2 linked regions of the Homo sapiens genome follow. Changing the gene in region 1 together with any one later gene gives a genetic interaction. Each region holds a gene or a part of one and is shown on either strand. Other genes may lie near its edges.

Region 1 (3,500 bases):
CTGAACTCTCCAGTTGCAGTCCGGGAAATACTTTTTTCTAGGCAAGAAAGCAATAGCAATATGGTGGTATAAAACAGCAGCTTATTTTTCCCACTTGTTTTCCTGTTACTCTGTATTAAAGCCCTAAAGTTAAAAAAAAAAAATCTTAAAGTCCTACATTTAAAACCTGGCAGCATTTGGTGTTCTGTAGCTCATTAACTCTTCTCTGATTCTGTATTTCATAGACCATTGGTATTGCATAGTCACAGGGACCCAGAATTTCAGATGCCAGGTAAAGTGTGTTCTTTGTGAAGAAATCCATTTCTCTGTCCCCTGTTGAAGGCGTGATGAGAGGCTGGACCTACAGTGGAGTCTGGAGGGACATCAGCTGGGAGTGGTGTCTGTGGACATCAGCCACACCCTGCCCATTGCTGCATCCAGCTCTCTTGATGCTCATATTCGTCTTTGGGACTTGGAAAATGGCAAACAGATAAAGTCCATAGATGCAGGACCTGGTAAGAGTTTTACTTGTAGGGGAGATAATAGAGGTTCATGATTTCTTTTCCAAAATCTTTAGGGATAGAATGTGTTTTACAGCTCAGAATTTTTTGGATTTGAGAGGGGTGATAATGTGTGCATGAACTGTATTTCACATAATACCCTCAGTGGGGCTGGAAACAGCACTGTAATGAAAGACTAATACCTCTGCAAGTAAACATGAATGTTTACACTAAGGGAGATAAATAAAGGCTATAAATAGCCTTATGTCAATTCAGGTTAGATTTTGCTGCCAAATGAATTTTGGTAGTAAACCTGTAGAAAAAGCTTGTAGTTTCCAGAGCTTTTTGGATTTCAAAACTGCTGGTTTGGCGTTGACCTGTATTTTGCATTTTCCAGAGGTTCTTTATTTGCCATATTCTGAACTGATTCATTCACTGCCTTACGGAAACCTAGAATGTAAAGCATGGGGTCCTTATAGATCTGTATCATGGTCATCTCTACTAATTTTGATTAAAGGGTGTGATTCTTGGTATGTGATACATATGAAACTTTTAAGAAACATCAATTTTTTTTGTTTTAAGTACTGTAGAACAGCATAATCTTGTCCATCAGCCTCAGTAAACATCATCTGAGATGACAGAAATTAATGATGTCATAGGCTGACTAATGTGGAGCAGCAGAGGACATTTCAGGATTCTTTTGAACTTCACATTTACTTATAAATGGCTGCACAACATTCCCCAGCAGAACCTGCTCTGCCAGAATGGGTGGTAACTGCTAGAGGGTGCAGATAGCCTGGCATTTCTCTGGCACACCCCTTTTTGGGTTGATGATAGAAGAGCTGCTTAGGTGTTCCATGAACACAGTTCCCTTGATTGGTGCCCTGGATGGATTCGCCTCCCGCCAGTTATGCTCAGTAGCCACTCTAGGCTGTTCCTGTATTGGAAAGAATGATGGTCCCAGAGTTTTTAAAGAGGCTGGGTTGTCTGGAAACTGAGTGCATTTTCCCTCAGAAGCAATATTTCTTGTCTGTAATTCTTACCACTGGAGCTCTTTTAAGAATATGCCTGCCCAGTCCATATTTTGGATCCACTGAATCATAGTGTTCAGAGTACGTGGGGTGGGATATGTATTTGGAAAAAGCTACCCAGACGCACCCTGACTCCCCTGATGGTTGTCTTTACATGTACCCTTACCCTGCTTACATTACTTACAGAGGACTTGGGTCCCCAAACTATCCTGCAAAGTCTATTAAGACTCCAATATATAAGCATGGTCTTAAGAAAAGAGGAAGAGACAGAACTGTTTCTACCTTTTCATCTTGGGCGCCTAAGCTTTCCCTGGGCTCATAATGCTGGTGTTATTCCATGCTGGTTGTAGCCCTGGGCACAAGGCAGCTGAAGAAATCAGTGCTGGATTGGTTCCAAGTAAAAGGATGGCGTATGTATCTAGCTCACTTTCTCTGATAAACAGTACCTTTTACTGGATATTCTCCAAGTGTGGCAAAGTTTTAAAGGTTACTGTTATGAAAGAAAAAGAAGAGGCCAGGTGTGGTGGCTCACACCTGTAATCCCAACACTTTGTGGGGCTGAGGCGGGTGGATTACTTGAGGTCAGGAATTCAAGATCAGCCTGACCAATATGGTGAAACCCTGTCTCTACTAAAAAATACAAAAAATTAGCTGGACATGGTTGTGTGCACCTGTAGTCCCAGCTACTCAGGAAGCTGAGGCAAGAGAATAGCTTGAACTCGAGATTATGCCACCGTACTCCAGCCTAGGTGACAGAGCAAGACTCAATCTCAAAAAAAAAAAGGAAGAATGGGGTCTGAGAGTTGGATTTATTTTCTTTTTGGATAGGACTCTGCATAAAACTAGACCAGGCCATTAAACAGCCAACAGTTATTTGGTCCAGTAACAAAAGCAAGCATTGCTATTGACAGCTAAAGAGCAGCTAAATTCATCTGAAGGTAAAACTCCTTGGATGAATTTGGGTCTAATGAATGTAGGGAAAATAGACACTTAGTTTCTACCTATCTTGAAAATATGCATGGAGAATCTGAACCACCACACAGGAAGAGAAAAAGAGAAGAGAGACAATCCCCAGTCGTGGAGAAGTAAGGAAGTAGGAGGAAGCGAAGACCATGAGTGTACCAGTCTTTGTGTGGACATATGTTTTCATTAGGAGTAGAATTGCTGAGTATCATGGTAAGTGTTTGTTTTCACTTAAGAAACTGTCAAACTGGTTTTCAAAGTGGCTGTGCCGTTTTACATTCCCACCAGTGTATGAAGGCTCTGGTTTCTCCACATCCTTGCTAACACTTGATATTGTCCTATTTTAATTAAAAATTTAAGAAACCCTTAAACTAAATTTAAACTTGATAAAGAATTAGCATCTTTACAACATAATTTTCTGAATCAGGACACTGCTACTCCGATTTAAAAAGATGTATCCTTTGGTAAAACTTTAGTTTTTAAAATTAAGGCCAAGTCTTTTCACACTGTATTTTTGTCCTTCTTTTTTCTGTTCAGTGGATGCCTGGACTTTGGCCTTTTCTCCTGATTCCCAGTATCTGGCCACAGGAACTCATGTCGGGAAAGTGAACATTTTTGGTGTGGAAAGTGGGAAAAAGGAATATTCTTTGGACACGAGAGGAAAATTCATTCTTAGTATTGCATATGTAAGGAAACATTGCTCTCTGTTCTCCTTCTGATTCTTTCAGTTTACCCTTCCAGCCTGTTGCAGTCCTTGCCACAGATTCTGTCTTGGTCTGGTCAGGCAGCTGCTGTCTCACTGGTGTGGTTTGCCAAGTAGCCAGTTAGACCTGTAGATAGCAGGAGGTTTGCTTGTGTTTGGTAGGGACAGCTTAACAACACGGAGTCTGAAAGTGCTAATTTCTCCATATGTTCTCTGAACAGAGTCCTGATGGGAAATACCTAGCCAGTGGAGCCATAGATGGAATCATCAATATTTTTGATATTGCAACTGGAAAACTTCTGCATACCCTGGAAGGTATATATC
Region 2 (3,352 bases), on another chromosome or scaffold:
CTTGTGGCCTGAGAGCATGTGACCCCAGACGCCCGCGGGTCCTCGGTGGCCCCTAGGCTGCATCCATGGGGGAGGCCTGCAGTGGGTGGCCAGGTCTTCTCATAGAGGGGCTCCTCTGGTCCTCCTGACACATCAGTCGGGAACACAAGCTCTAGGGGCCTCAGTGCCTGCGGGGAGGCTGTGTTCTCTCCATCTCAGTACAGGGCTGCACGCTGGGCTGGCCTGGGAGGACGGTGCACGCCCTGGGCCATGGCTTCCTAAAGCGAAGGGAGCCAGCAGGGGGTGACACCATAGGGCGTCAGAGCTGGTGGCTTCTTGGACACCTGCCGGGGGGAGCAGCTGCTGAGCCACGAGGCAGCCCCCTCCCCTGGAATCCATGGGAGAGGGAGCTGGGAGTGCCTACCCAGTCTGGAGTGTCTGGCCCAGACCCAGCCTGGGTCACTCCCAACTGGGGGCACTCAGCCCTGCCCCGGCCAAGTGGCTGGGGGTGGTGGACGCGGCACTTCCCACTCACAGGAAGAATTCACTCAGACAAGGATGAGGAGGGCTTTGCACAGGCATTTACTCCAGGGGATGGCGGGCCACCCCAGCCCCAAAGGGTTAATGCGTCCTGGGGCGTACAGAGCTGGTGACCTTGGGGAAGGCCACACAATGGACTGCTGGAAACCAGTTCTCTCCTCCCACTGTTGCCTGGGGCTACAGACAAAATGAAGGCGAAAAATGCAGGGGTGGGGGCTGGGTGCTGGCAGGGGACCCAGGGGCAGCCAGGCTGTTGCTGGGAGACTCAGTGCGACATGGGCCTGGCGGAGGGCCCCAGGCCTCCTGCAGTGGCACCAGGTGTCCCCATGAGCGGCCGGCACTCAGGCTCACCTTGAGGGGTACCTGCAGGTGGCAGCCAGAGGTGAGCCCCACGCCTGGGCCAGCCACCCCCAGCCACCTCCCAGACCCCAAGCAGGGGGACAGGGCCTACAGCACACAGGTGCACACATCCAGATACATGATCAGACAGCCACACGCACACATGTGCATACACGTGCACACTCACCACACTCGCCCAGCAACAGGCTTATGCCACATCCACCTCCCAGTCACGACACCTCGATCTTGGCGGAGGTTCCCCCACCTGCCAGGGCCTCTGTGCCAGTGGGTAGGCTGCGGCCGGCAGACAAGGTGCCCTTGGATGGGTGGGTGTGTCCTGGGGCATCCTGTGCTTGCCCCTCAGGGTCCTGCCCCCGGGAGGATTGGTGGCTCCTAGAGGCCAGGAGAGCCCTCCCGGGGGTCCCTGACCTTGAGTGGACCAAGCCTTCACAGCTCTTGACAGGGAGGGAGGGGTCCAGCCCCGGCTGCCGTCCCTGTTCACTGAAGTGAGCAGAGTCGGGTGGGGCTTCCCGGGCTTCAGGGACGGTCCAGCCTCCACGGCTGTGCCTGCTGTGGAGTGGCCATCTCGGGGCTGGGGCTGCACCCTTTGGCCTGGCTCTTTTGCCCTGGGGGTGCTGGCCTCCCCTCACCCTGGGCTCCGGAAGACCGGGCAGGCTTAAGTGTCCCCTCACCTGAAGCTGCAGCTCCAATGCCTGCACCTGTTCCAAGGACTCCATGGTCCTCCTGACGAGAGCTAGAGTGCGGAAGAGAGAGGAGGCCCTGCTGGTCTCTTGGCCTTGGGGCCTGGGAGCCGAAGATAAGAGAACTTTCAGGCCCGAGTCCTGCCCCGGCCCCTGAGCCCCCTTGTTTCCTGTGTCCACTCGGTCACCTGAACCAGCTGTGGGACCTTAATGCCCACAAGGAGCCCCTGAGTGCCCAGCCCCTGAGGCTGAGTCCAGCTCCCCCGGCCCCATCCACAGTCCAGGATGCCTCTCGCAGGCCCCTTGGCCCTCGCTGCAGCCCCTCCTCCTGGCCTGGCCCACCACACTGCACTGGCCCTCACCCCTACCCCTCCGGCTCAGCTCACCCCAGCTGGGGGCCATGGGGTGGGGCAGGCGTCATGCCAGCTCTGTTCCAGAGCCACTGGGGCTGGGAGGATGGGGGAGGCACAGGGAGCCCCCACCAGCCAGAGCCACCAGGCACACAAGAACCCCCCATCCCCACTACTGCCCGGTGAAGTTTGAGGCAACAGTGGCTTTGTGCCACAGGCAGGCTGACCCCGTTGTTGGGGCGTGGATCACCATGCAGCAGTGGGGCTCAGAGCCCTACGAAAGGGAAGGCCTGGGCAGGGGCCAGAGGTGGGACCCGCAAGCTCAGGCTTTCTCAGGGCTTGCTCTGAAACCTGGAGCCCCTGGATAAACATTCGTTCAGTCCTTTTGTGCTGTGTGACACTGCAATGCAAAGATGGCGGCAGGAGCCCCAAGCCGTGGTGGGCGCCACCTCACTTTCCAGCCCTGCTGGCCCCAGCAGAGCGAGGGTCTCCCTGGGGACCTGTCCCTGGTGTGTCCTGAGCAGGGCCAGCGGCCACCCAAGCTCTGTGGCCCTCAATGTCTTCTGTGCAGGAGCCGGTCACCGTCTGCAGGGAGCTGTCGGCCAGCAGGTGGGCACACGGCCCATGTGCATGGTGGGGAGCCCTGCAGAAGGACCTGGGCCCCCCTGGGGACCTTCTTATGGGGGCGAGGCTGGAGAGCCGGCCCAGGCCAAGCTGGACCATTGGCTCCTCATGCTGGCTGGGGCTACCCTGAGTATGCAGAGAACTGGTCCCTCTTCTGTGCCTGGTGGGGTGGTGCTGTTGACTGAGCGGGTGATCCCAAGCAACTGCTGCTCAGAGAGGGGCAGCAAGCGTGGGGCTGAGCTGGCACTCAGCTGGAGCGCTCCCTGTGGGGCCCTCGGGAGGGCAGGCAGGGCAGAGATGCTGGGCGCTACACACCGCCTGGGAGATATGACCTGACCCCCAGCCCTTCAGGGATGGTGCAGGCCCCGCCCGACCCCTGGTTCCCCAGGCCCTGCAGTCCCTGGCCCCGAGTGCTCCTGAGAGAGCAGAGCACAGGCTGCAGCCTGCCTCAGGAGCTGCCAGGCCAGCTGGAGGAAGCTGCTCCCGGGAACAAGGCCGTTTGGGAACGTTTTCTTTCCTTTTTTAACCTACAGCTGAGCACACGTTATACTTGTTAAATGGTCACGTAAGGTGGGTGTGTTTTCAAATGAGTGGCTGGACATACTTTTCAAGTGGCAGAGCCCTGCTTTAGGATGGAGTGGTCTGGGTGGGCCCCAGGGATGGGAGCCTCACACCCCTAAGGGTAAGGCCTGGAGAGGGTGGGGCTAGGAGGGCATGGCGACCACCACTCGAGAGTTGGTGCCTGAAGCTTCCAGCCCTGACGCCCCCGTGCCTCTTCTCCCAACACGTGAAGCTGCCCCGGCTGTTTACAGACCTGGC

The links.
Region 2: changes in SKIC8 (region 1) and POLN together harm fitness more than expected from each alone (negative genetic interaction), as found in Homo sapiens cells (one large-scale study listed by BioGRID).

The regions. Positions count from the first base shown.
Region 1 is NC_000015.10:78,289,610-78,293,109, reverse strand, and holds part of SKIC8 (superkiller complex protein 8), read left to right. Parts: intron 1-321; coding exon 322-494; intron 495-3,010; coding exon 3,011-3,159; intron 3,160-3,397; coding exon 3,398-3,491; intron 3,492-3,500. UniProt on the Homo sapiens protein: Component of the PAF1 complex (PAF1C) which has multiple functions during transcription by RNA polymerase II and is implicated in regulation of development and maintenance of embryonic stem cell pluripotency.
Region 2 is NC_000004.12:2,071,418-2,074,769, forward strand, and holds the end of POLN (DNA polymerase nu), read right to left. Parts: intron 1,613-3,352; coding exon 1,551-1,612; intron 883-1,550; coding exon 697-882; 3' UTR 501-696; downstream 1-500. UniProt on the Homo sapiens protein: DNA polymerase with very low fidelity that catalyzes considerable misincorporation by inserting dTTP opposite a G template, and dGTP opposite a T template. Is the least accurate of the DNA polymerase A family (i.e. POLG, POLN and POLQ).